2 linked regions of the Homo sapiens genome follow. The protein of the gene in region 1 binds, or shares a complex with, the protein of each later gene. Each region holds a gene or a part of one and is shown on either strand. Other genes may lie near its edges. The genes, in order: RAB3IP and RAB8A. A codon is read from its position in the direction of its gene.

Region 1 (15,900 bases):
AGTGGTATAATCAAAGCTTACTGTACCCTCAAATTCCTCAGCTCAAGCCATCCTCCCATCTTAGCCTCCCAAGTGGTTAGGACTATAGGCCTGCACTATCACACCCAGCTAATTTTACAACTTTTTGTAGAGACAAGATCTCACTATGTTGCCCAGGCTAGTCTTTTAACTCTTGGCCACAATTGTCCTCCTGCTTCTGTGTGTCAAGTTTTTGGGATTACAAGTGTGAGCCACTGAACCTAGCCTTTCCATTAAAAAAAAATTATATATATATATTTATTTATTTTTATTCTCCTTTTTTAGATAAAAGGTAGTTTACTGTTATTTATCCTGTTTTTTATCTTACTGGTATATCTTCGATGTCACTTCATAGCGATACATGGATATGTATTTTACATCTGTGCAGTGCTTCATTATGAGGATGTACCCTGGTTCATTGAATCAGTTTTTTGCTATTACGAAGAGTGCTGTTGTCATGTTGCCAGTTTATCTTTAGGATAAAGCCCCAGGAGTGGCATGCTGGGTCACAGGTTTAATATCATTTTGAAGTTATTGCTAAATTTTCCTCCATAGGATTTGTACTATTTTGTATTTCCAGAAATGCAAATGCTTTTACGTTTTATGATTCAGTGAACCTTCAGGATATAAAGAGGTGAATTCATAGTATATGGGATAGAAGAAAGAATCATAAATAGTTACTGATTAAAATGTCAAAATTTAATGCAAACGTAATACAAAGGTTTTTTATGTTAATGAATTGGTTAGTGTACTTGCCTGAACTATATTCAAGTGAAAATGAATTATGTACTTTGAATATAGCAGTTTTCTTGGTATATGTGGGTATATGGATTATGAATAAAAAATGAAAATTCTTTTGGGTGAAAAAATAATAAATTTTAATGGAGTATTAAACACCTTACATTCCTTATTAATCTCATCTTTCATTTGGCATAGTGAATATTTTATGTGAAAAAAGCAAGGACTAGTTTCATTTTGAAGAATAAATCATTTGCTATTAGTAAACAGCTGATTGGATTTGAAATTTGTCATTTGTAGATTTAATTGTTGCACTTTGGGTTGTCTATATGCTGGAAAGTCTGTGACACATACTAATTTGTAATTTTGAAATGATACTGAGTCAGATCTCTTTCAACTTTGCTGAAATCTTTTTGTTTTTATTCTCTACTTGTATTAACACTTTTTATTAAGGATTTGAGAGTTAAATTTTTCAGCTAGTTTAACAAATGACTACTTCTGTATCTTATGGAAGAAATGATGTGCTATATTGTTTGGTTTGGCATTTTTTTTATTTTTATTTTTTGAGTTGGAATCTCAATCTGTCGCCCAGGCTGAAGTGCAGTGTCTCAGCTCATTGCCACCTCCTGGGTTCAAATGATTCTCCTGCCTCAGCCTTCCGAGATCTGGGATTATAGGCATGGGCCACCATGCCCAGCTAATTTTTGTATTTTTAGTAGAGACAGGGTTTCACCATGTTGGCCAGGCTGGTCTCGAACTTCTGATCTCAAGTAATCCACCCGCCTCGGCCTCCCAAAGTGCTGGGATTATAGGTATGAGCCACCAAGCCTGACCTGTTTGGCATTTTCTAAGTTCCGGGAAGATGTTATTCACAACTGTCAAAGTACTATCATAGGAAGGAAAAAAATTGGAAAGAGAGATTGGATTCAGATCCTAGAAGACCTTACTTTTTTGGCTAAGAAGTTTGGTCTCTATTCAGCAGACAGGGAAAATCAATAAAGAATTTGTAAGATGCCATTTAGCTTTGAATTCTTCAGAGGAAAAACTTGAGTGGTACACTCAAGTTAGTTTCCATGTAAACTTTGTGATATAATTGAATAGTTACATGAACTGTTTTTTGCTTATGGAGAACCTGAAGCATATGTGGTATTGTTAGTGGCTGGGCTATGATAATTCAAGTTTATTGAGGCCATACTCTATGTCAGGTACATAGTACTCTACAAAATACTTTACATGGATTGTCTCCTTCAATCCTCACAGCAACCAGGACAAGGGAGGGGCTAGTGTTATCCCCATTCTAATCTCATCAGAGGAGAAATTTAAGGCTTATAGAAATGAAACACATTATCCAGGATTGGATCCTGTACATATAAAGGATATTATTGGAACAATTAGTGAAATTTGAATGGGGCCTGTTGATTAGATGGTAATTTTAATCAATGTTAACTTCCAGATTTTGATGATGATTTTGTGGTTAGATAGAATGTCCTTGTACTTAGGATACACACACACATACACAGATACACGGGCACACACACACACACACACACACACACTGTGTATATGTATACATTGAGATATTAAGTGGGCATCATGTCTGAAACATTCTTAAATGACTCAAAAATATTAACAATTTCATAATCTGGGTGACAGGTATGAGAGAGTATGTGTGTGTCTTTACCGCCTTTCTACTTACTCTAACCAAGGTCATGTATAATCAGAAAGTTAAATATAAATTCAAGAGATCTATGGTACAGCAGGATGACTGTAGTTCCTGACGATATATTGTAAATTCTTGAAAAATGCAGAGAGTAAATGTTGAGTTTTCTCATAACAAAATAATGGCATGAGGTAACGCATTCGTTAATTAGCTAGTTAGCTATTTCACAATGTGTATGTGCCTTCAAACATGTTGTACATGATAAATACAATGTTCTCTGTTAAAAAAATTGTTTTAAGAGTTTCACAGCATAATATAATTGTTATTGAGTCTAAGATTGCATAATACTGTTAGATTTTGTTTTTAGTATTTTCATATTTAAATAGTATACTGAGATAATTTATTTTAATATGAACATTTAATAATTTTAAAATATTTTTAAAAATTAAGCCAATTTTTATTCATTCCTCATACTAATTGATTATTCTCACTTTAACAGCATTGCTTATCACTTTCAGGTTTCTTCTAAATCAGATTGTTTGCCTTTTGTAGTAGTTATACTGTGAGATCGCTTAGTAAATGTTAAGTGATTGTGGTGTTTTGTTTTTGTTTTTGTTTTTTGAGTGGGAGAAGGTCTTGCCCTGTCACCCAGGCTGGAGTGCAGGGTTGTGATCACGGCTCACTGCAACCTGCATTTGGGCTCAAGCAATCCTCCCACCTCATCTTCCCGAGTAGCTGGTACTACAGGCATATACCACCATGTGATTGTGGTTTTTTAAAAAAAGCCTCTTTTATTGTAAGCTTATAATTTACAATGGACTGTTAAACACATTTTATAATTTATGCATTTTAATTTAGTTTTAAATGTTATTATCTAAAAATAAGTATCTGCTTTTTGTTTTAACATAGGTTATCTTATGATGAGGCTTTTGCTATGGCTAATGATCCCTTGGAAGGCTTCCATGAAGTAAACCTTGCTTCACCTACTTCTCCGGACCTTCTTGGTGTGTATGAATCAGGAACTCAAGAGCAGACTACCTCACCAAGTGTCATCTACCGGCCACACCCTTCAGCTTTATCCTCTGTACCTATCCAGGCAAATGCATTAGATGTTTCTGAACTTCCTACACAACCCGTGTATTCATCCCCCAGACGTTTAAATTGTGCGGAAATATCTAGTATCAGGTAGGAAATAAGTAAATCACTTATTTGATTTTTTTTAAAATGGACAGTTTGCTTAGTTACTATATTTTAAGTTTTACTATTTTTAGAAAATTTGAATAACTTAAGTGTGCCTAGGTAAAGAAATACATGACCTGATAATGTTCTAGAACAGGGTTGACAAACTTTATATGTGAAGGACCAGATAGTAAATATTTTAGGCTTTGCAAGCCATGCAGTCTCTGTTGCAACTATTCAACTCTGCCTTTAGAGTTTGAAAGCAGCCATAGACAGTATGTAAATGAATGAGAGTGGTTGTGTTCCAATAAAACTTCATATATGGATGCAGAATTTTGAATTTCATTTAATTTTCATGTGTCACAAAATATTCTTTTAAAGATTTCTTTTCAACTATTTGAAATTGTAAAAACTATACTTGGCTCATTGATACCTTATAAAAACGGGTGGAAGGCTTGGTTTAGCCTGTAGGCTATAGTTTGTTAACCCCTGCTCTTGAGTAGCACTGTCCTGTAGAACTTTCTGTGTTGATGAAAATGTTCTATTTCTGTGCTATCTAATATGAATGATAGGTATTAACCACATGTAGCTATTGAGCACTTGAAATGTGGCTGATATGACTGAGGACATACTATTTATTTAAATATAGAAGCTACCAAATTGGGTAGTACAGTTCTAGAGCTGTGTGTTTAAGCCAGTTCTATTGGAGCATATGCTGATATTTTCTGAAAAATGTCTCTCTCCTTTACAGCTTTCATGTTACAGACCCAGCCCCTTGCTCTACCTCTGGAGTCACAGCTGGATTAACTAAATTAACTACAAGAAAGGACAACTATAATGCAGAGAGAGAGTTTTTACAGGGTGCTACTATAACAGAGGCTTGCGATGGCAGTGATGATATTTTTGGGTTGAGTACTGATAGTCTGTCTCGTTTACGAAGCCCATCTGTTTTGGAAGTTAGAGAAAAGGGCTATGAACGATTAAAAGAAGAACTCGCAAAAGCTCAGAGGGTAAGAAAGAAGATATTTTATTCTTCCATATATTATATTAGAAATTAGTATTTCTCCATGGGGTGGGGCAACCTGCAGAAATGAAATCATGATGGTTGTACATTTATCCGTCACATATGCCCAGCCTCAGCTCCTGTTAGGCAGCATTTAGGAATCCGTGAAACTGGTTGGGTAGTAAAGAAGTTCCTCTAAGACTACTAACTGGAAAAATGTGGCTCTGTTAACTCTTCTGTGCCCCACTGCATTGCCTGCTCCCTGTCTCGTATTATCTGTAATGCAGATTGAGTGGGCTATATTCCACATGCAGGGTTTTTCCTTCTTACTACATGGCTGACTAAATGGTTATTTACTTGAAGTCACTCAGTCTAAGTCATTTTGTTTTGAGTTTAAGCTGAGTTTGAATATTTTCTGTATCTTACCTTGGAGAATTTTCTTGGTAAATTGTTGTGTTTCCCATTTGGTCATTTTAAAAGTTTCTGCTATTTATTTCCAAACTTGTGGCCATATCTTATTCTTTTTCTGAGTCTGCAGTTAAATTTCAGAGGAAAATTTATAGAATGAAATGCATACATCAGAAAACAGGAAAAGTCTCAAATGGACAATCTAAGCTCCCACTTTAAGAATCTGTAAAAAGAAGAGCAAAATAAAACCAGAGCAAGTAGAAGGAAGGAAATAATAAAGAGCAAAAATCAATGAAATTGATAACAGAAAAAATAGAGAAAATGAGTGAGACAAAATGTTGGTTCTTTAAGAAGATTAATAAAATTGCAAACCTCTAGCAAGACTGACAAAAAGAAGACAGATTTATCAGTAGCAGGAGTGAAATGCAGGATGTCACTGGAGACTCATATCAAAAGTATAATGGAATGATATGAAAAACTGCATATATAAACCTGACAACCTAGGTGAAATACCAATTCACATGTAGAAAATTGAGAAGGTAGGGCAAACATTTATAGGTGTAATATCCAACCTACCATGACATTTCACAAATGTATTCCCACTCTTTCCCTAGCATACTTGTCTCTCATGAGCGTAGTATATTCATTTTTTTAATCCCCAGTTCCTTCCCAAAGGAAAAGGATGTGGTGAGATGTGGTTGCATTTTGTTTCTGTCATCTGGCTCAGACTTTGTTGTCTTAATAGATAGTATTTTATTAAAATCACACATTATATAGAGGTAAAATTTTGAGTATATGTATCCATCTTTGAGAACACATGGTTATTGATCAGAACAGATTGCTAATTTCTTAGCTCACTTGAGAATTTCCTTTGAAATCTCTAATATGCTGTATTTAGAGATACTGTTTGGATAATTGAAATGGTGATGTGTAAACACATATGTGGTGACTTTTATGAAGAGTATAAGTTAGTATTAATATTTACTTAGATCTCAAGGCTTGAAAAGGACTCTTGAATATAAAAATACTTCCTGAATTGTGACAACTTGTGAATCAAACTATGTCAACAGCCATTTTCTTTAGTCTTATCTTAAGAGAGGCCATTTTCTATACTTTTTACTTACTTGGTTAACTGTGTCTTCCTATTTAATACGAGTTTCTTATAGATAGTGTACAGTTAGGTCTTGTTCTTTTGATCCTTTGTAATTATCTCTGTCTTTTAATTGGTGTTTAGACCATTTACATTTAATGGATAATGGTATAGTTTGGTTTAAATTTACCATCTTACTGTTTGTTTTCTGTTTGTCTCATTTGTTCCTTTTTCCCTTTTGTATCCTTTCTTTTGAATTAATTCTGTATTTTTAAAACAATTTCATCTTCCTGTGGCTTTTATCTTTGTTGCTTTAGCGTTTATAGTAGACATATTTAACTTATCACTCTCTACCTTCCGGTGATATATTACTTTACATCTGGTGTACAAACCTTACAAAAGTATACTTTTATTTTTCCCCTCCTAGTTTTTGTGCAATAATTGTTGTATGTTTCACTTCTTTGTGTGTTTAAACCCCACAAAACACTATTGTTTTGCATTAAACAGTATTATCTTTTAAAGAGACTTAAATAATAACAAAGAATCTTTACATAGATAAACATCAGAAATGTTAGCTACATGGGCATCTGTGTGTTCATTCCTTTTTTTTTTTTTTTTTTTTTTTTTACAAGTTTTACTTTTATTTTTGAATGATAGTTTAACGGGGCATACAATTCTAGGTTGATGGTTGTTTTTTTTTTTCTCAACAAACACTTTCATAATTTTACGTCTTTGTCTTCCGGCATCTATCATTGTTGATGAGAAGCCAGCTGTCAATGTAGTTGTCATTCCTTTGTAGATAATTGGTTTTCTTCCTCCTTCTGGTCACTTCTAAGATTTTTTTTTTTTAATTGATCATTCTTGGGTGTTTCTCGCAGAGGGGGATTTGGCAGGGTCATAGGACAATAGTGGAGGGAAGGTCAGCAGATAAACAAGTGAACAAAGGTCTCTGGTTTTCCTAGGCAGAGGACCCTGCGGCCTTCCGCAGTGTTTGTGTCCCTGGGTACTTGAGATTAGGGAGTGGTGATGACTCTTAACGAGCGTGCTGCCTTCAAGCATCTGTTTAACAAAGCACATCTTGCACCGCCCTTAATCCATTTAACCCTGAGTGGACACAGCACATGTTTCAGAGAGCACAGGGTTGGGGGTAAGGTCATAGATCAACAGCATCCCAAGGCAGAAGAATTTTTCTTAGTACAGAACAAAATGAAGTCTCCTATGTCTACTTCTTTCTACACAGACACAGCAACAATCTGATTTCTCTATCTTTTCCCCACCTTTCCCCCTTTTCTATTCCACAAAACCGCCATCGTCATCATGGCCCGTTCTCAATGAGCTGTTGGGTACACCTCCCAGACGGGGTGGTGGCCGGGCAGAGGAGCTCCTCACTTCCCAGAAGGGGCGGCCGGGCAGAGGCGCCTCCGACCTCCCGGACGGGGCGGCGGCCGGGCGGAGGCGCCCCCCACCTCCCTCCTGGACGGGGCGGCTGGCTGGGCGGGGGCTGAACCCCCACCTCCCGGACGGGGCGGCTGGCCGGGCAGGGGCTGACCCCCCACCTCCCTCCCGGACGGGGCGGCTGCCGGGCGGGGGCTGACCCCCCACCTCCCTCCCGGATGGGGCGGCTGGCCGGGCGGGGGCTGACCTCCCACCTCCCTCCCGGACGGGGCGGCTGCCGGGCGGAGGGGCTCCTCACTTCTCAGACGGGGCTGCCGGGCAGAGACGCTCCTCACCTCCCAGACGGGGTCGCGGCTGGACAGAGGCGCTCCCCACATCTCAGACGATGGGTGGCCGGGCAGAGACGCTCCTCACTTCCCAGACGGGGTGGCGGCCGGGCAGAGGCTGCAATCTCGTCACTTTGGGAGGCCAAGGCAGGCGGCTGGGAGGTGGAGGTTGTAGCTAGCCGAGATCATGCCACTGCACTCCAGCCTGGGCAACATTGAGCCCTGAGTGAATGAGACTCCGTCTGCAATCCCGGCACCTCGGGAGGCCGAGGCTGGCGGATCACTCACGGTTAGGAGCTGGAGACCAGCCCGGCCAACACAGCGAAACCCCGTCTCCACCAAAAAAATACGAAAACCAGTCAGGCGTGGCGGCGTGCGCCTGCAATAGCAGGCACTCGGCAGGCTGAGGCAGGAGAATCAGGCAGGGAGGTTGCAGTGAGCCAAGATGGCAGCAGTACAGTCCAGCTTTGGCTCGGCATCAGAGGGAGACCGTGGAAAGAGAGGGCGAGGGAGACCGTGGGGAGAGGGAGAGGGAGACTGTGGGGAGAGGGAGAGGGAGAGGGAGAGCCTCCAACTCTCCTCTTGCTCAGGATCCGTTTGGGGACTTGCTCTGTGTGTTCATTCCTTTGGTATTCATTTCTTCATGTGGATCCAGATTTCCAACTCGTATCATTTTTCCTTTGGCTTGAAGGACATCCTTTTACATTTTTGTTGTGCATGTTTGATGGTGATAAATTCTTTTAGCTTTTGTATGTCTGTGTTCATTTTTGGTTTTTGAAAGATATTTTCACTGAGTAAAGAATTTAAGATTGATAATTTTTTTTTTTTTGTTACTGTAAAGATGTTGCTTCAGTGTTTTCAAGCATGTACATTGTTTCTCACAAGAAGTCTGCTGTTACCCTTACCTTTGTTCCTCTGCGTATTAGGTCTTTTCTCTCTGGCTGCTTATGAGAGTCCTCTCTCACTGGCATAAGCAATGTGATTGTGATTTGCTTTGGTGTAGTTTCTTCAGCTTTCTTATGTTTGGGATTTATTGAGCTTCTTGAAGCTGTAGGTTGTTAGTTTTCATAAAATTTGGGAAATTTTGGCCTTTATATCTTCAAAAAGTTTTCCATTCTTCCTCTCTCTCTCCTTTCCTCTGGATTCCTATTACATGTACATTAGACTGCTTAAACTTATCTCACAGCTTGCTGGTGTTACAGTCTTTCATTTAAAAATCTTTTTTTCCTCACTGTGTTTCATTGTGGGTAGTTTCTATTGCTATGTCTTCAAAGTCACTACTCTTTTCTTCTGAAATATCTAATCTGTTAATCCCATACAGTATGTTTTTAAACTAGACATTGTAGTTTTCATCTCTGAAAGTTTGATTTGGATCTTTTTTATACTTTGCTTGCTCTGCTTAATATGTTGGGATGCAGTTTAATAAATGTTTTGTTTCTAATTATTTCATCTCTTCAGATAATAAGCTGGGGCAGATCTGGGGTGCACATTTTGTTTTTCATTTCTAGGGGATCACTGTCTTTTATTGCCTAATATCAAATGCTTCAAATTGTTGATCCATATATTTTTTCAGAGTTTTAGTTGTGTCAGATGGGTGGTAAATCTAATCCCTGTTCCTCTATCTTAATTGGAAGTGAAAGTTCTACTTACTCATTTATATTACTTCATTGTCTACCCCATTCAAGTAATCCACATAGAAAAACCTGCATTTATACACACATGCTTCAGTACTTCTGAGATTCATGAGGATAAGGATTGCATATGTTTGTGCTCATGATTATATCTTGAGCATATAATGGGTTTTCAATACATTTTGTTGATTAAATGAATATATACATGTATATGCGGTTATACAAGTGTTTGTATACACACATGCCTGATATATTAGGGTGATGCTTATAAGTAACCCCCAAATTTTCGTGACTTTACCTAATAGAAGTTCATTTTTATTCATTTAACACTCTGAAGCAGATGTTCATAGTTGGTAGGCAGTTCTCTGTGAAATAATTCAGAGATCTGTTTCTCTTCTGTTTGGGGCCTTTGTAATTTCTTAGGGTTTTATTGTTATTTGTATCTAACCAATGAGACAAAAGGGAAAGACAGCTTAGAGAAGGTACAGCTTCTTCTAAAAAACCTTGGCTTAGATATGATACACATCACTTTTGCTCACATTCTATTGGTGTGAACCTTTCATGCCAATACCTAGATGTATGGTGGGCTGGGTAATGTAATCCCTGGATGGACAACCACTTCCCAGCAACAAATCCATACTGTGTGTGTAGGGGGACCAATCATGTGGTCACTTATTTTCAGGTGCAGGGATGCCAGAGATTATGATGTAGTCATTTAGCTGTTTGGCCTTCCATAGGATATTTCTGAAGAGCAGCTTTTAGTGGAATTCTCAGGAGGAAATTGGGCTTTAGTGCATTCTTATTAAGTATAGATCCTTGCACTCTACTCCAGATCTGCTGAAATCAAATTATTGTGTTGAGGTTTGGGAATATGCATTTTCATCAAACTTGTTGATTCTTACATTCACTAAAAGGTGAAATCTGCTGTAAGAGGTTATTTTAAACTTTTATTTTTCTTAAAAGAAAATGAGCTGGGCGAAGTGGCTCACGCCTGTAGTCCCAGCACTTTGGGAGGCCGAGGCGGGCAGATCACCAGGTTAGGAGATCGAGACCATCCTGGCTAACACGGTGAAACCGCTTCTCTACTAAAAATACAAAAAATTAGCCAGGTGTGGTGGCAGACGCCTGTAGTCCCAGCTGCTTGGGAGGCTGAGGCAGGAGACTGGCGTGAACCCAGGAGGTGGAGCTTGCAGTGAGCTGAGATTGCGCCACTGCACTCCAGCCTAGGCAACAGAGGGAGACTCCGTCTCAAAAAAAAAAAAAAAAAAAAAAAGAAAAAAGAGAAAAAGAGAAAAAGAAAAAGAAAATGAAATGACTTAGAAAATAAAGCCCAGTAGGATAGCTTGCAAAGAGAGTCATTGAAAATCACATACTTGCACTAACCCTATTCAGTATTGGTTCTACTAACTGTAGCCAAAGACATTTGTAAACATTAACAAATATTTTTTTATGAGATAAAACTATAAATTTTATTTTGCTTCTCAACATAAGCTCCGTCAAGTTGAAGACACTTTTATAAGGGATGATAACCAGCCATTTAGTTCATCCTTAAAGAACTGAGGGTGCTGGGAATTTAACCATGTCAATGCAGTCTTTTTTACATTATTAGCTGAAGAAAAATGGATGCTTTTTAAATATTTTTTTAAGATTGTGAACAAAGAATTCTGAAGGAGCCAAATAAGGATTGCAAGGTGTATGCCTAATGATTTTTCATGGAAACTCTCACAAAATTGCCCTTGATGAGAGGAATGAGCAGGAACATTGTTGTGGTGGAGAACGACTCTGGTGAAGCTCTCTTGGGCATCTTTCTGCTAAAACTGTGACTAACTTTCTCAAAACACTCTGATAGTAAGCAGTTGTTAACCATTCTTTGGCCCTCCAGAAAATCAACCAGCAAAATGCCTTGAGCATGTAAAAAATTGTTGCCATGACCCTTGCTCTTGATCAGTCCACTTTTGCTTTGACTGGACCACTTCCACCTCTTGGTAGCCATTGCTTTGATTGTACTTTGTCTTCAGCATCATACAGGAAAAGTTATGTTTCATCTCCTATTATAATTCTTTGAAAATGCTTCAGGATCTTGATCTCACTTGTTAAAATTTTTTTTTCTTCAACTTTTATTTTAAATTTAGGGGGTATATGTGCAGGTATATTACCTGGATATATTGTATAGTTCTGTGGTTTAGGTTATGAATAATCCTGTCACCCTGGTACTGAGCATAGTACCCAATTGTTAGTTTGTCAGCCCTTGTCCCCCTCCCCTGTCTAGTAGTCCCCAGTTTCTATTTTTCCCATCTTTAGGTCCATGAGTACAATGTTTAGCTCCCACTTATAAGTGAAAAAAATGCAATACTTGGTGTTCTGTTCCTATGTTAATTTGCTTAGGATAATAGCCTCCAGCTGCATCAGTGTTGCTGCAGAGGAATTTATTTTGTTCTTTTTTAATGGCTATATAATATTCCTTGGTGTATATGCACTACATTTTCTTTATCTGATCCACTGTTGATGAGCATCTAGGTTGATTCCATGTCTTTGCTATTGTGCATAGTGCTGGGATGAACATGTGAGTGCATGTGTCTTTTTGGGAGAACAGTTTATTTTCTTTTGGATATATACCCAGTAATGGGATTGCTGAGTTGAATGGTGGTAATTCTTTCCCAAGGCTGATGTCCAGAATGGTGTTTCCTAGGTTTTTTTCTAGGATTCTTATGGCTTATGGATTCTTATGGCTTATTCCTAGGTTGTTTTCTAGGATTCTTATGGCAAAGATTTCTTACATTGAAATCTTTAATCTATCTTAATTTTTGTATATGGTGAAGGGGGATGGGTATTCCAGTTTCATTCTTCTGCATATGCCTAGCCAGCTATCCTAGCACCATTTGTTGAATAAGGAGTCATTTCCTCATTGCTTATTTTTGTTGATTTTTGTCAAAGATCAGATGGCTGTAGGTCCAGGGCTTTATTTCTGGGTTCTGTATTTTGTTCCATTAGTCTATGTGTCTGTTTTTGTACCAGCACCATGCTGTTTTGATTACTGTAACCTTATAAAATAGATTGAAGTCAAGTAATATGGTACCTCTGACTTCTTTTTTCAAAGGATTGCTTTGGCCATTCAGGCCCTTGTGTGGTTCCATATGAGTTTTTAAATACTTTTTTTTTTTTTAGTTCTGTGAAAAACAACATTGGTAGTTTGATAGGAATACCGTTGAATCTGTAGATTGCTTTGGGCAGTATGGCCATTTTAACAATGTTGATTCTTCCAGTCCATGAGCATGAAATATTTTTAAAATTTCTTTGTGTTATTTATGATTTAACGGTATTTTATAGTTCTCTTTGTAGAGATCTTTCACCCCCTTGGTTGGATGTATTCCTAGGTATTTGTGTGTGTGTGTGGTTATTGTAAATGAGATTGTGTTCTTGATTTGCTCTCACCTTGAATGTTATTGGTGTATACAAATGCTGCTGAATTTTGTACATTGACTTTGTATCTGGAAACTTTACTGGAGTCATTTATCAGTTCCAGGAACCTTTTGGAAGAGTCTTTATGGTTCTTCAGGTATAAAATCATATAGTCTGTAGGAGAGGTAATTTGACTTTTTCTTTTCATGTTTGGTTGCCTTTTACTTTTTTCTCTTGCTGGATTCCTCTGGCTAACACTTCCAGTACTATGTTGAATAGGAATGGTGAGAGTGGGCATCGTCGTCTTGTTCCAGTTCTTGGGGAAGCCTTCCAATTTTTGTCCATTCAGTATGATGTTGGCTGTGGGTTTGTCATAGATGGCTCTTATTATTTTGAGGTACATTTCTTTGATGCCTAATTTCTTTAGCGTTTTTATCGTGAAAGGATGTTGGATCTTATTGAAAGCTTTTTCCACCTCTGTTGAGATGATCGTATGGCTTTTGTTTTTAATTCTATTTATGTTGTGAATCACATTTATTGACTTGTGTATATTGAACCAGTCTTGCATCCCAGGAATAAAGCCTACTTGATCATAATGAATTAACTTTTTGATGTGCTGTTGGAATCAGTTTGGTAGTATTTTGTTGAGGATTTTTGAATCTGTGTTCACCAGGGATATTGGCCTGTGTACTTAAGTGTGACCAGGAGGTCTGCCTGAGCATGGAGCAGAGAGGACCCGCCTATATCAAAGCCTCTGCACAGGAGGAGTGAGGCAACTCAGGCTGCCGAACGAAGCATGCAGGTGCTTTGAATGCATGGAGATCTGCCTGGGCATGTGGCAGAGAGGATCTCTAATTTTTGTGGTAGCAGGTATCATTCTTTTGTTTCTATGTTTAGAACTCTCTTAAGGGTATCTTGTAAGGCTAGTCTAGTGGTAATGAATTCCCTTAGCAGTTGCTTGTCTGGAAAATATTTTATTTCTCCTTTGCTTATGAAGCTTAGTTTGACAGGATATGAAATTCTTGGTTAGAATTTCTTTTCTTTCAGAATGCTGGAAATAGGTCCCCAATCTATCCTGGCTTGTAAGGTTTCTGCTGAGAAGTCCAAAGCCTGGTATGGCTCCATTTGTATGTGATTATGTAATCTAACCTTTTTCTCAGCCTTTAAGTATTTTTGTTTGTTTTGTTGTGTTTTGCATTGACCTTGGACAGTCTGGTGACTATGTCCTGTGACGATCTTCATTTTGGATAGTATCTTGCAGTTCTCTAGATTTTTTGTATCTGGGTGTTTACCTTTCTAGCAAGGTTAGGGAAATTTTCTTGAATTACTCCCTCAAATATGTTTTCCAGGTTGTTTACTTTTTCTTCTTCTTAGGAATGCCAATAATTCATAGGTTTGTTTCTTTTATGTAATCCCATATTTCTCAACGACTTTGTTCATTTTTTAAAATTATTTTCTCTTTATTTTTGTTTGACCAGGTTAATTCCAAAGACCATTTTTCAAGCCCTGAAATTCTTTTTTCTGTTCGGTCCCATCTGTTGCTAAAGCTTTCAATTGTATTTTCAAATTCCTTACGTCAGTTTTTTGGTTCCAGAAACTCTGATTTCTTTTTCTTTTCTTTTCTTTTTTTTTTTAAGACAGTTTCACTCTTGTCACCCAGGCTGGAGTGCAATGGCACCATCTCGGCTCACTGCAACCTCCGCTTCCCAGGTTCAAGTGATTCTCCTGCCTCAGTCTCCCGAAGTAGCTGGGATTACAGGCGCCTGCCACCATGCCCAGCTATTTTTTTTTTGTATTTTCAGTTGAGATGGGGTTTCACCATGTTGGCCAGGCTGGTCTTGAACTCCTGACCTCAGGTGATCCACCCACTTCGGCCTCCCAAAGTGCTGGGATTACAGGCATGAGCCACCATGCCCGGTGCAGAACCTCTGATTTCTTTTGAATATGTTTATTTCTTCTTTTATTTCCTGGATTGCTTTAGAAGTTTCTTCTATGTTGATTGTCAACTCTGTCTTGGATCTCATTGATCTTCCTTGCAATTCATGTTTTGAATTCTTTATCTGTCATTTCTGAGTTCACATTTTAGTTAAGAACTGTTGCTGGAGAGCTAGTGCTATCCCTTGGTGGTGTTACTACATTTAGATTTTTCATCATGCCAGAATTCTTCCACTGGTTTCTCCTCATCTGGAGATGATTGCACTTCTAATTTTTGTAATTAATTTCATGTGAGTAGGATTTTTTTTCTTCCCTATAATTGTTTTTTTCTTTTCCTTTCTTTTCCTCCCTATTGGGGTGTGACTGTAGAGAATTCTGGGTAGGATCTTTTGGTTTTGCTTCTATAGTTCTGTGCACTTCTTTCAGCAGGTTTTATATTGGGCTGTGCATTTGACCTACAAGTCAGTAGGCCATGCTTATTGATAAGAGTCAGCTGTAGCCAATGCTGCTGGGTATATACTTGTTTAATGGTAGAAACTCTGTTGCCTCAGGCAGTGGTCTGAGCTCCCTGCTCAGCTCCAGGGGGATGGGGCCATGATTGGTGAGAACGACTGGGCAAATCTGCCAAAGGTTCACTCATGGCAAGCACAAACACCAGTGCTGACGGTGAATCCAATGGGCGGCCACCAAGTACCCAGAAGTGTGCCTAGGCATGGAGCTGGGAATCCCCTTCAGCCCTAAGTTCTCTGCATGGGAGTCGGAGTAGCCTAAATTCTTGATCTAAGAGAGTTGGTGCTCCAGGTGCCTGGAGGTCTGCCTGGGCGTGGAGCAGAGAGGACCCCCCTATACCAAGGCCTCTGCACAGGAGGAGTGAGGCAACTCAGGCTGCCAAACCAAGCATACAGGTGCTTTGAATGCCTGGAGATCTGCCTGGGCATGTGACAGAACCTGCCTGCCCCAGGATCTCTGCACAGGAAGGTTGGGGTGGCTCAGACTGCTGATTCAGGTGAGTGGGATCTCTGAATGCCTGGAGATCTGCCTCAGTGTGAAGTGGAGAAGACCCCCTTTCACCAAGATTTCTGCACAAGAGGGGTGAGGTTACTCATGCTCCTGAACCA
Region 2 (12,478 bases), on another chromosome or scaffold:
CACACCTGTAATCCCAGCACTTTGGGAGGCCGAAGTGGGCAGATCACCTGAGCTCAGGAGTTCGAGACCAGCCTGGCCAATGTGGTGAAATCCCATCTCTACTAAAAATACAAAAATTAGCCAGATGTGGTGGTGGGCCCCTGTAATCCCAGCTACTTAGGAGGCTGAGACAGGAGAATCACTGGAACCCGGGAGGCAGAGGTTGCAGTGAGCTGAGATCGTGCCACTGCACTCCGGCCTAGGCAACAAAGAGTGAAACTCCATCTCAAAAAAAAAAATAATAATGGTATAGGGCCAGGCATGGTGGCTCATACCTGTGATCCCAGCTTTTTGGGAGGTGGAGGCTGGAGGATCTCTTGAGCCCAGGAGTTTGAGACCAGCCTGGGCAACATAGGGAGACCCCATTTCTACAAAAAATAAAAAAATTAGCCTGCCATAGTAGCGTGCAGATGTAGTCCCAGCTACTTGGGAGGCTGAGGTGGGAGGATGGCTTGAGCCCAGGAATTCCAGACCAGCCTGGGTAACATAGCAAGACCCCATCTCTACAAAAAATAAAAATTAGCCATGCGTGGTGGTGCATGCCAGTAGTTCCAGCTACTCTGGAGGCTGAGGTGGGAGAATCACTGGAGCCTGGGAGGCGGAGGTTGCAGTGAGTGAAATCACACCATTGCTCTCCAGCCTGGGCCACAGAACAAGACCCTGTCTCAAAAATAAGTAAATAAATGAGGATAATACCAAGAAAAAAGAATATTCAGAGGTGATCAAGACTATCAAATACCACAGAGGCTGAGGCCTGTAGGTGGTCAATGCCTCTGGTTGAAGCTTTTTTAACCAGAGCTAGATTAGCAGAAGAATGAGCTGAAGTGGAAGGGAGGAGGAAAGGCTGGGCCCTCCTTCCACAGATCCTTAAGTAAGCCTCAAGGCCCCGGAGGCCCCAGAGTGACCTAGAACAGACTGGACCATCTCTAAGAAGCAGGGAGCCCTAGTGATCAAACTGCGGCCTGGGAAGCTTGGCACTCTGAGTTCAGATACCAAATTCCCACTTTTAAGCAGGAAGGGGGAAAAGTCACTTAACCTCCTCTGGCTTCAGTTTTCTCACCATTAAACAGGAAAAAAACAATAACATCGTTTTGCTGGGCTGGTACTGGGATTAAAATTTTAAGAGTCAGGGGCCGGGTGCAGGGGCTCACGCCTGTAATCCCAGTACTTTGGGAGGTGGAGGCAGGCGGATCACGAGGTCAGGAGTTCGAGACCAGCCTGGCCAACACAGTGAAACCCCATCTCTACTAAAAATACAAAAAAATACACCACACCAGGCGTGGTGGTGGGTGCCTGGAATCCAAGCTACTTGGGAGGCTGAGGCAGGAGAATCGCCTGAACCCGGGAGGCAGAGGTTGCAGTGAGCCAAGATCGCGCCATTGCACTCCAGCCCTGGTGACCGTGAGAGACTCCATCTCAGAAAAAAAAAAAAGTCAGGGTCTTGCTCCGTCGCCCAGGCTGGAGTGCAATGGTGCGATCACAGCTCACTGCTGCCTTGACCTCCTGGGCTCAAGGGATCCTCCCACCTTAGCCTCCTGAGTAGCTGGGACTACAAGCATACACCACCATACCTGGCTAATTTTTTAAAAAAATTTTTTGTTTTTTGAGATGGAGCCTTGCTCTGTCACCCAGGCTGGAATGCAGTGACACAATCTCGGCTCACTGCAACCTCCGCCTCCCAGATTCAAGCAATTCTGGTGCCTCAGCCGCCTGAGTAGCTGGGACTACAGGCGCACATGACCACACCTGCCTAGTTTCTGTATTTTTAGCAGAGATGGTGTTTTACCATGTTGGCCAGGCTGGTCTGGAACTCCTGACCTCAGGTGATCCACCTGCCTTGGCCTCCCAAAGTGCTGGGATTACAGGTGTGAACCACCTCGCCTGGCCAAAAAACTTTTTTTTTTTTGCAGAGATGGAGGTCTTGCTATGTTGCCCAGGCTGGTCTCCACCTCCTGGCCTCCAATGAACCTCCACCTCAGCCTCCCAAAGTGCTGGGATTACAAGCGTGCACCATGACGCCCAGCTAATTTTATTTGTTGTAGAGATGGGGATCTCCCTATCTTGTCCGGGCTGGTCTTGACCTCCTAAGCTCAAGCAATCCTCCTGCCTCCCAAAGTGCTGACTCCCAAAGTGCTGGGATTACAGGCCTGAGCCACCACACCCAGCTGCAAGCCCGATTTTCCAAATGTATCTCTCCTCTGTTTTTCTCTTTCTTTTTTTTTTTTTTTTTTTTTTTGAGACGTAGTCTCATTCTGTCGCCCAGACTGGAGTGCAGTGGCGCGATCTCGGTTCACTGCAGGCTCCGCCTCCCGGGTTCACACCATTCTCCTGCCTCAGCCTCCCGAGTAGCTGGGACTACAGGCGCCCGCCACTACTCCCGGGTAATTTTTTGTGTTTTTAGTAGAGACGGGGTTTCACCGCGTTAGCCAGGATGGTCTCGATCTCCTGACCTCCTGATCCGCCCGCCTCGGCCTCCCAAAGTGCGGGATTACAGGCCTGAGCCACCGCGCCCAGCCTTTTTTTCTTTTGATAGGGTCTTGCTCTGTCGCCCAGGCCGAATTGCAGTGGGGCGATCACGGCTTACTGCACCCTCAACCTCCTGGCTTCCCAAAGCACTGGGATCACAGACGGGAGCCAACGCCCCGGCCAGTTTTTTCAACGTTGAGAGCCCTGGCCCCTAGATAGGACCCAGCATCCTCACTGCTCTAACCCCTCCCCCCCCACCATCCCCGGGCTGGCCCGGACAACCCCTAAGGTGGCCGAGGGCGGGCCCTGAGGAGGCCGGCGCGCGCTTCCGGGCACAGCTTGTGGCGGTGAAGCCGCTCAGATGGCGGAGGCCTTGGGTATCTCTAAGCAGATCGCTAGGCCGCAGACCTCGGAGCTCGTCTTGGGTCACTTTTATTTATTTTTTTTGAGACGGAGTCTCTCTCTGTCGCCCACGCTGCAGTGCAATGGCGCGATCTCGGCTCACTGCAAGCTCCGCCTCCCAGATTCAAGCAATTCTCTGCCTCAGCCTCCCGAGTGGCTGGGATTACAGGCGCCCGCCACCACGCCCGGCTAATTTTTGTATTTTTAGTAGAAACGGGGTTTCACCATCTTGGCCAGGCTGGTCTTGAACTCCTGACCTCGTGATCCACGCGCCTCGGCTTCCCAAAGTGTGGGAATTAAAGGCGTGAACCACCGCGTCCGGCTTGGGTCACTTTTCGAGTATACAGCTCCTCCTCTCTCCTTCCTCCCTAGGCCCCCACTGCCCCGACTCGCAGGCCGCAGACAAGGCTGAGAGCGCTACCTTGCTTTCCCGCGCTCGCCTCGGTGCCTACTGCGCCTGCGCGAGCTGTGAGGGCGGGACCCAGAGACACCCGCCCCAACTACTGGCGTGCGCCCTCTGCTGTCGCCTAACGGAACTCCGGGCGCGCGTGCGCACGCACCCCAAGCCACGCCCCGCCAGGCTGCCGGCGCGCGAGCGGTTGGCGCCGCTCCCTGCCTTCCCTCTCCTACAGTGGGGCGGGGCCGGGCCGCCCGAGTCGGGGGTGGAAGGCGGGGGCCACATAATGCCACGCCCCCGCCTCGTCCCCATTTGAAGCCCCGCGACTCTTCACTGCTGGTCAATCAGAGCCCGTGCTCTCCCTAGTGCCGGCCAATGGGAGGTGCGCTCGGGCTGCTTCCGGCTCCGCGCTCCGCTCGCCCCCTCCCAAGGTCTCCCCGCGACTGGCGGGACGCAGGGGCGGGCGTCGGCCGCGGTGACGCGCAGCGGGCCTGGAGCCAATAAGGGGCGGGCTCGGTGCTGATGGACGGTGCTGGTGGCCAGTGGAGAGGCGCTGGCCGCACTTCCCGTCGGGGAGAGAGTGTAATATGGCGAAGACCTACGATTACCTGTTCAAGCTGCTGCTGATCGGGGACTCGGGGGTGGGGAAGACCTGTGTCCTGTTCCGCTTCTCCGAGGACGCCTTCAACTCCACTTTTATCTCCACCATAGGTAACGGGACCGGGGAATGGCTGGGGGCGCCGGAGGCCCGGGCTGGGCGCGCCCCTGAGGGGCTGGGGCTGAGGGATCTACAGGGCTGGACGGGCCGAGGGCGCTGAGAGGGTCGAGGGGGCCTAAAGGGAGAAGAGCAGTCGCCTGCACCGCCGTTCGGGGGTTCCTGGGCCGTGGTGGGGGAGACCAGGTGCCCATTTTGCAGATAGGGAGACTGAGGCTCCGACCCTCAGCCCGCTCGTTAGGGCGTGTTATGTCTTGGGCTGGGGTCTTCGCGCCCGTCCTCTCGATCTGTCCTAGCAGCAGCCCTCGAAGCGGTTCTTTTGAGGCTCTTGCCTTACAGAAGTGGAAACTGAGTCATGGGGAATTGGCCATGGGAAAAAGACAGTGGCATCTCACCTTAATGAGCATTTACTATGTGCCAAGTGCTTCACGTGCATTTTCACACTCTTCAGTTCTTGGTGTTAAGTGCTGTTATGAGCCCGTCTGACAAGATGAGGAATCTGAGGCTCAGGGAGGGCATGGAACTTGCCCAAGGCCACACAGTCTGCACGTGGTGAGAATGGGATTTGATGGAATTTGAACCTGGCTGTGTCTCAACCCAAAACTCGAGGCTTAGCTCTCCTAGAGAGATGCCACTGCACACTCCCAGCTGATGACAAGCTCAGCTAATGCACCTTGGAGCCGGGACTCTAACCCACACCATTCCTGCTCTTTTCTCTGGAGCGTTCAGAGGTTGAGCCCCTCTCCCTGACCATGCTTCCCCTCATAAGCGTATTTTCCTCTAGAAGGAATGATAAGAAGAGTCAGGACCTTTTCCCTGCCCACCTTTCATCCTGCTCCAGGAATGACAGCAATGGCAAGTGACAGCACTGCCTGCCCTGGGACCTGTCATCCCCAAGAAGATGCAAGATAAAAGCCTCAGCGAGAAACTAAATCAGCCACTGCCACAGACAGCCTTGACTTCCCTATCAAAGGGCCCAAGACTCCAGCTGTCACTTTAGAACAGCTTTTCCTGTAGGGCCAGCCCACATTGTGGTTGAACAGAATTGGCTTGGTGCATCTCAGTTGTGATGTCCACAGAAGTGGAGCTGACCTCTCTCAGTGCCACAAAAGCAGTCCTGGCCCACAATGAAAAGGTTTGACCCAGGAGTAACACCTATTTGAGTGGCTTGTGAGCTCTGTAGCCCTGCTAGGGATGGGGAAAGTGGGGGAACGGTCACTAAGTCCAGGAGTTTATTCCGACTCAAGAAAACCTAGGGAATGGCCTTTGCTTTACTGTGTCACTTTGACAGAATCGTGTTATCTCCCTGAACCCCAAGATAATGTGCTAATTCCATTCTTGCCCTCCTCCAGGAGCTATGCTTTATTTATTTTATTTTATTTTATTTTTTGAGACGGAGTCTAGCTCTTTTGCCCAGGCTGGAATCCAGCGGCAGGATCTCGGGTCACTACAACCTCTGCCTCCCGGGTTCAAGCAATTCTCCTGCCTCAGCCTCCCTAGTAGCTGGGATTATAGGCACCCGCCACCACGTCCAGCTAATTTTTGTATTTTTAGTAAATACAGGGTTTCACTGTGTTGGTCAGGCTGGTCTCGAACTCCTGACCTTGTGATCTGCCTGCCTTGGCATCCCAAAGTGCTGGGATTACAAGCATGAGCCACCGCACCCAGCGGAGCTGTGCTTTATAAAACAGTTATATGCCAGATGTAAAATAGAGAGAATTGACTGGAAATCATTACGTCTGGTTTCCAGTTGCTGTTTGCCCTTGAATGTGCACTACCCCTCTCTGAGCCCTGCTGTCTTTAGAGCAGGAGTGACACTGTCTGCCCAGCCTAGTGCCCTGGTGGTTGAGGATTAGAATTAGACAATAAGGGGTTGTCACCACAACCAGAGGCTATCTAGAGGAAGCAAATGAATGGCTCCTGCAGTGACAGCATCCAGCCTCTGAAGACAGATGTTTCTGAATTCTTCCCCCTCCCCCACTCCAAGGCTAAACTTTAGGGTAATTCTTGTGCTCCAACCAATCAAGAAGTGGCGTTAATTCAGCCTGGGCAACATGGCAAACCCCATCTCTACAAAAAATAAAATAAAATCAGCCGGGCACAGTGGCTCACCCATGTAGACCCAGCCACTTGGGAGGCCAAGGTGGGAGGATCGATTGAGCCCAGGAGGTCAAGGTGCAGTGAGCTGTGATGGTGTCACTGCACTCCAGCCTGGGCAACAGAGCGAGACCCTGTCTTAAAAAATAATAATAAAAATAAAAGAAAGAAAGAAATGATGTTAACTGTGAGCAGACTGGCTTGCATTCACTCAGATCCCAGTTTCCCAGCCTTCCCCACAAACCCCCCTCTTTTTTTTTTTTTTTTTTTGAGACAGTCTCTCTTTGTCACCCAGTCTGGAGTGCAGTGGCGCGATCTCGGCTCACTGCAACTTCCACCTCCCAGGTTCCAGCGATTCTCCTGTCTCAGCCTCCCAAGTAGCTGGGATTACAAGCACCTGCCACCATGCCCAGCTAATTTTTGTATTTTTTTTTTTTTTTTTTTAGTAGAGATGGGGTTTCACCATGTTGGCCAGGCTGGTCTCGAACTCCTGACCTCGTGACCGCCCACCTTGGCCTCCCAAAGTGCTGGGATTACAAGCATGAGCCACCGCGCCCAGCCCAACCCCCCTCTTTAGAGTTACTTTGAGCTTTAAAGAGGCTTTCTTCCATTTGCAGATGAGGATGTGACTTGGTGAAAGTTACCTAGCAAGGTGGAGGTGGCACCTGACCCTAAGATCCCTCCCTCCCACCCCTTCATTCCCCTCCTTCCATTTGTAGCCTTCTGTCTTCTAGGAAAGTCTAATTCACCATGACCTTGAAGGTCAGACCTCATAATTCTTAGGCCTCATAAAGTTTACACTTCCTAATTAAATTTGGCATGTTAATAAAACCCAGAGGAGTGTAGGGCGGAGTGCTGCTGTGGAGCTTGGCCAACCTAACAGTGCTCCTCGATTTTTTGTGTCCCTGTACACGTGTGACAGGAAATGGGGAATGTTTTAGGAAGCCCAGGCACACTGGGCTGTCTAGTCCTGAAGCAGTATCACCTTAATGCTTAAAGGTGATTCCATAAATTAGCCATACGTGGTGGCGCTTGCCTGTATTCCCAGCTACTCAGGAGGCTGAGGCAGGAGAATCGCTTGAATCCAGGAGGCAGAGGTTGCAGTGAGCCAAGATTGTGCCAGTGCACTCCAGCCTGGGCAACAGAGCAAAACTCTGTCTCCAAAAAAAAAAAGAAGCAATTCTATATTGGCTGAGTGTACCTCTGGGTTTTCTTTATAGACAAGGATTGAGTGGCTATTCATTTTCTGCCACTCAATCCTTAACATTTTGCCAAAAGTTACATTTCATCAAAGCCTATTCTCAGAAGCCCCATAGATCATTTGTGGTGTGAACTTGGCCCTGTAGCTCCCTGGAATGGGTTCTCACCAGCCTGGCTCGGCGCCACTGCCTCCTCAGGGGCCCATTGATTCCTCCAGTGAAAGGGTTGGCATTTGAGAAAGTGCTTTGTGAACCGCTCAACACCGCGTAGACCCTGTTGCGCTTTAATACTTTGATCCAGCCATATTTTGCCAGTGTCTTCTGTGGGCCAGGCAGCCATTTTGGCAAGAGGGCTGCAGAAAGGACACAGGTGAGTCAAGGTGCGTGCAGGACTGGGGTACCAGCTTCTAGCAAATGTGTATTCAACCCCTGTGTGTTCAGTCACTGGAGGTAATAGCAGTGGATGAGACTTGTCAGTTCCCTGCCCCAGGGAGCTTACGTTTGAGAGGGCGAAAGTCCAGTGCTGGGGCTGGATGGATGGAATTAGCATCCCCACCCTGGGTTCAGAGAGGCCCAGCCAGGCCTGGGCCTCAAGTCTTCCCCAGCAGGCACTTGAACAAACTCCTGGTGGCAAAGGCTGGGTCTGGCTGTTTCTCATCTACATGGGCCATTATGATCTGCAAGCATTATGCCCAGGTCCATGCAGCAGATACATACATGTATGTCAGTTATGTTAATAAATAGGTAAAGGGAGAACTGATGAGGATGGTCAGAAAGGTTCCCCTGAGGAGGGAACTTGAATGGGAACCTGAACAAAGGGATAGCCAGGTAGCTACAGAAGAAAGAACTTTCCAGGGCAGGGAAGAGCAAACATCAAAGCCCCGAGTCAGGAGCATGCTTGGAATGTTGAGGAAATCGCTGTGTGGATGGTGTGGCCAGAGAGAGCAGGTCATGAGCCAGAGTGCTGAGAGGTGACCAGGTTAGGCAGGACCTTGACACACATGAGCAGCTGTTTCCACTTTATTCGAGGGAAGTGGGGCAGGGAAGCCACTGAAAGAGGCTTTAAAAAAAAATAGCTTTATGAGATAGAATTCGCATACAGTTCACCCATTTGCAGTGTACAATTCAGTGGCTTTGGGTACATTCACAGAGTTCCACAACCATCACCACAGGCAATTTGGGAACATTTTTATTATGCCAAAAAGACACCAACCCAAGGCCAGGCACGCACGGTGGCACAGTGGCTCACGCCTGTAATCCCAGTACTTTGGGAGGCTGAGGTGGGCAGATCACGAGGTCAAGAGATCGAGAACAGCCTGGCCAACATGGTGAAACCCTGTCTCTACTAAAAATAGAAAAATTAGCTGGGCATGGTGGCGCGTGCCGGCAGTCCCAGCTACTTGGGAGGCTGTGGCAGGAGAATCACTTGAACCCGGGAGGCAGAGGTTGCAGTGAGCCAAGATTGCACCACTGCACTCCAGGCTAGCCAAGATCGCACCACTGCACTCCAGGCTAGCCAAGATCGCACCACTGCACTCCAGCCTGGTGACAGAGAAACTCCATCTCAAAAAAAAAAAAAAAAAGGATACCAACCCTTCCAGTTTCCCCATGTGCCCCCCCAGCCCCAGACAACTGCTAATCAGCTTTCTGTTTCTATGAATGAGCCTATGCTGGACATGTCTGTTAATGGAATCTCACACTAAGTGACCTTTAGTGTCTGGCTTCTCTCAGCATCCTGTCTTCAAGGTTCATCCACATTGTATAGCATGGATGAGTACTCCGTTCCTTTTTATGACTGGGTCATATTCTGTTGTATGGTTGGACCACATTTTGTTCATCCATTCATCTGTTGGTGGACATACTAGAAAGTTTGGAGCAGAGGGCCGGGTGCGGTGGCTGATGCCTATAATCCCAGCACTTTGGGAGGCTGAGGCAGGCAGATCATTTGAGGTCAGGAGTTTGAGACCAGCCTGGCCAACACGGTGAAACCCCATCTCTACTAAAAACTCAAAAATTGGCCGGGCATTGTGGCAGGCACCTGTGGTCCCAGCTACTCGGGAGGCTGAGGCAGGAGAATCACTTGAACCTGGGAGACAGAGGCTGCAGTGAGCCAAGATTGTGCCACTGCACTCCAGCCTGGGCGACAGAGCGAGACTCCATCTCAAAAAAAAAAAAAGAAAGTAAGTTTGGAGCAGAGGTTAGCTGTGTAACATGGTTAGGGTTATATTTTTGAAGGCTGGGGAGGGGACTGCGGGTGAACAGTGGGAGCCTGGGGAACATCAAGGTGGCTGCGAGGTCACCGTGGGGAAAGGGGATGAAAGCGGGAGGTGAGAGACAAGGAAGATGGGGTCAGGAAGGCTTGTTAGGAGGTGATCTTCAAGGGGGCCTTAAAGGAGGAGAAGTGTGCCTAGCTGACGGGCCAGTGGGACACAGACCACCCGCAGAAAATGAATAGCATGTACAAAAGCTGGGGGCAGGAGAGAACGTGACCATGTGCATTGACGCATGGTGGGGCCTAAGGCCCTGTGTGCCTGGGGGTTGGTCAGCTGCAGGGTGTTGGGGAGCAAGGGACTCAGGCCTGCAGAGGGCTCTGTTGAGACCCACTCCGTACAACTGCCTGGGGTGGGGAGGCGGGTTCAGCTGGCAGCAAGGGACAAGAGCAGGGCTTTGCCACCCGCGCCCCCTGGGTTTGCTCTGCACTGCTCCCATCAGCTCTTGGAGAGGGAAAATATCTCCAAGTGTTTCCAGATCTGGATATTCCGACATCCTGCATGCCCAGCACCAGGCAGGGTCTCCGTAAGCCACAACAGCTGTCACCTGCACAGGTTGGTGGCGCCCAGCTCAGACACAACTTGGGAAATGGGCTGACAGTGACGTGCCTTTTTTCTTTTTTCTTTCAGGAATTGACTTTAAAATTAGGACCATAGAGCTCGATGGCAAGAGAATTAAACTGCAGATATGGTAAGAGTCATTGTTCTCTGTCATTCTCTCCACCTGGCAATGGCTTCAAGCCAGAAGCCCTTGGCCTTCTCCCTCCACCGTCCCTGTGACCTTGGCCTCCATTTCTTGGTGCCCAGTCCTGGCACATGGGGCTTTCTCCAGAAGCTCCTGGAGGTTTATACCCAGCCCAGAGAGCTGTCCTCTGCTGGCTGCAGGGCACCAGGGCCTACAGCATCATAGGCACAAAGCTGCCCAGCCCTGGCTAGCTCAGTGTTCCACAGTGGGCACCATCTGGGTCTGGCCTTCAGAGTGGGCTGCTTCTGTTGAACGGGAAGAGAGCCCTCTCAGTGCCAGGTGCTGGTGACGCCTGCAGGGACTGTGAGATGCCCCAGCCGAGAGTTTCCTTTTGAGCCTCTCAACCCACTCAGAAGCATAAAGGTCCAACTTCACTTCCTCTTTTCTCCCCTGGGGCAGGCCTGGCCTCCCTTCCTAGCGTACAGACCGAAACCCCAAACCGAAATTAAGCGGAGGGCCGGGCCCCATGTTGAGACCTGTTTCCATTCCTGAGAACTAAGGGTGACTTCCCATGCACATACAATTAGGGAAGTGGGGAGACTCCAAGTCGCCATCGCTGGCCTGATTCTAGTTTGCTGAGACTGAGTTCAGGTGGCGGGTATAGTGGGGTCCTGCCCTGCACACATGCCACTCGCACAGAGTCACTGGCCCTGAGCAAAACAAAGAGAAGTCACATTTAAGAGCATGGTGCAATTTCCCTGTCACCCAAACCAGGCAAGTGCCTTTGAGTGGGAGCAGTGTGCCAGGAGATGGGCCACGAAGTCATCCTCCCTCAAGTCTCAAAGTTTGACCGGTCACCCCCACTTGCCAGTTTCAGGGAGCCCCACAGCTACCCTTGACTCCAGGTGCTATTCACCTCTTCTTTTTTTTTCTTCTTTTTTTGAGACGGAGTTTCGCTCTTGTCGCCTAGGCTGGAGTGCAATGGCGCGATCTTGTCTCACCGCAACCTCTGCCCCCCGGGTTCAAGTGATTCTCCTGCCTCAGCCTCCCAAGTAGCTGGTATTACAGGCATGCACCACCACGCCCAACTAATTTTGTATTTTTAGTAGAGACGGGGTTTCTCCATGTTGGTCAGGCTGGTCTCCAACTCCCGACCTCAGGTGACCCACCCACCTCGGCCTCCCAAAGTGCTGGGATTATAGGCGTGAGCCACCACGCCCGGCCCTACTGTTCACCTCTTAATCTGACTTTGGGAGTCGGGTAGGTTTAACTTGCAGTTCATCCTGCAGACATTGGTAGTAAGTCAAGCTCTGGCTGCCTTGTAAGTTCCAAGCCATGGAAGTTTCTCCACTTCCAGCACGTTGGTGCCATGTCACCCTTTGTTCCCAAGTCCAAAGTGACACTGCATCAGCAAGCAGAAGTTTCACTTTCCTCCTGCCTTCCTGCTTCTGCTCTTAGCAATCGTGGTGAGGTTAGTGACTCAAAACTCTTCTAAGGACTGTAGTTGAAAAAAAAATGACTGGTTTTTTTTTTTGTTTCTTTGTTTTTTTGAGACAGAGTTTTGCTCTTGTTGCCCAGGCTGGAGTGCAGTGGCACGATTTTGGCTCACTGCAACCTCCGCCTCCTGGGTTCAGGCAATTCTTCTGCCTCGGCCTCCCAAGTAGCTGGGATTACAGGTGCCTGCCACCACGCTCGGCTAATTTTGTATTTTTAGTAGAGACGGGGTTTCGCCATGTTGGCCAGGTTGGCTTCGAACCCCTGAATTCAGGTGATCCACCCGCCTCGGCCTCCCAAAGTGCTGGAATTACAGGCGTGAGCCACCGCACCTGGCAAAAATGACTGTTTTTAACCACTCATGTCTCCTGCTGCTGGTGTCAGAAAGTCAGCTTAGCTCCAAGCAAGGTGTTTCTGCACAATCCAGACGTATAGAGCCCTCCGGGTCCCAGCAGGGCCGTGGGAGGAACCCTGGGCTTGGAGACAAAAGACCTGAGTCTTGCCCTGGCTCTGTCACCAATCAGTTAGGTCACCTTTAATTTTTTTTTTTTTTTTTTTGACAAAGTCTCACTCTGTCACCCAGGCTGGAGTGCAGTGGCATGATCTCAGCTCACTGCAACCTCCACTTCCTTGGTTCAAGCAATTCTCGTGCTTCAGCTTCCCGAGTAGCTGGGATTACAGGCACCTGCCACCATGCCTGGCTAACTTTTGTAT

The links.
Region 2: the proteins of RAB3IP (region 1) and RAB8A are in contact, whole or in part, in a crystal structure (PDB 4LHX), measured with the Homo sapiens proteins. Residues at the interface, in NP_783322.1 of Homo sapiens: Ser199, Arg202, Asp203, Gly206, Leu209, Glu210, Thr213, Ala214, Phe217, Glu218, Ala220, His221, Val224, Asn228; in NP_005361.2 of Homo sapiens: Lys10 (codon at 3,919), Phe33 (codon at 3,988), Ser35 (codon at 3,994), Thr36 (codon at 3,997), Phe37 (codon at 4,000), Ile43, Asp44, Phe45, Lys46, Ile47, Trp62, Ile73, Ala76, Tyr77, Arg79, Gly80.

The regions. Positions count from the first base shown.
Region 1 is NC_000012.12:69,752,059-69,767,958, forward strand, and holds part of RAB3IP (rab-3A-interacting protein isoform alpha 1), read left to right. Parts: intron 1-3,325; coding exon of another isoform or gene 3,326-3,350; coding exon 3,351-3,601; intron 3,602-4,346; coding exon 4,347-4,605; intron 4,606-15,900. UniProt on the Homo sapiens protein: Guanine nucleotide exchange factor (GEF) which may activate RAB8A and RAB8B. Promotes the exchange of GDP to GTP, converting inactive GDP-bound Rab proteins into their active GTP-bound form.
Region 2 is NC_000019.10:16,108,011-16,120,488, forward strand, and holds the start of RAB8A (ras-related protein Rab-8A), read left to right. Parts: upstream 1-3,878; 5' UTR 3,879-3,891; coding exon 3,892-4,015; intron 4,016-10,215; coding exon 10,216-10,276; intron 10,277-12,478. UniProt on the Homo sapiens protein: The small GTPases Rab are key regulators of intracellular membrane trafficking, from the formation of transport vesicles to their fusion with membranes.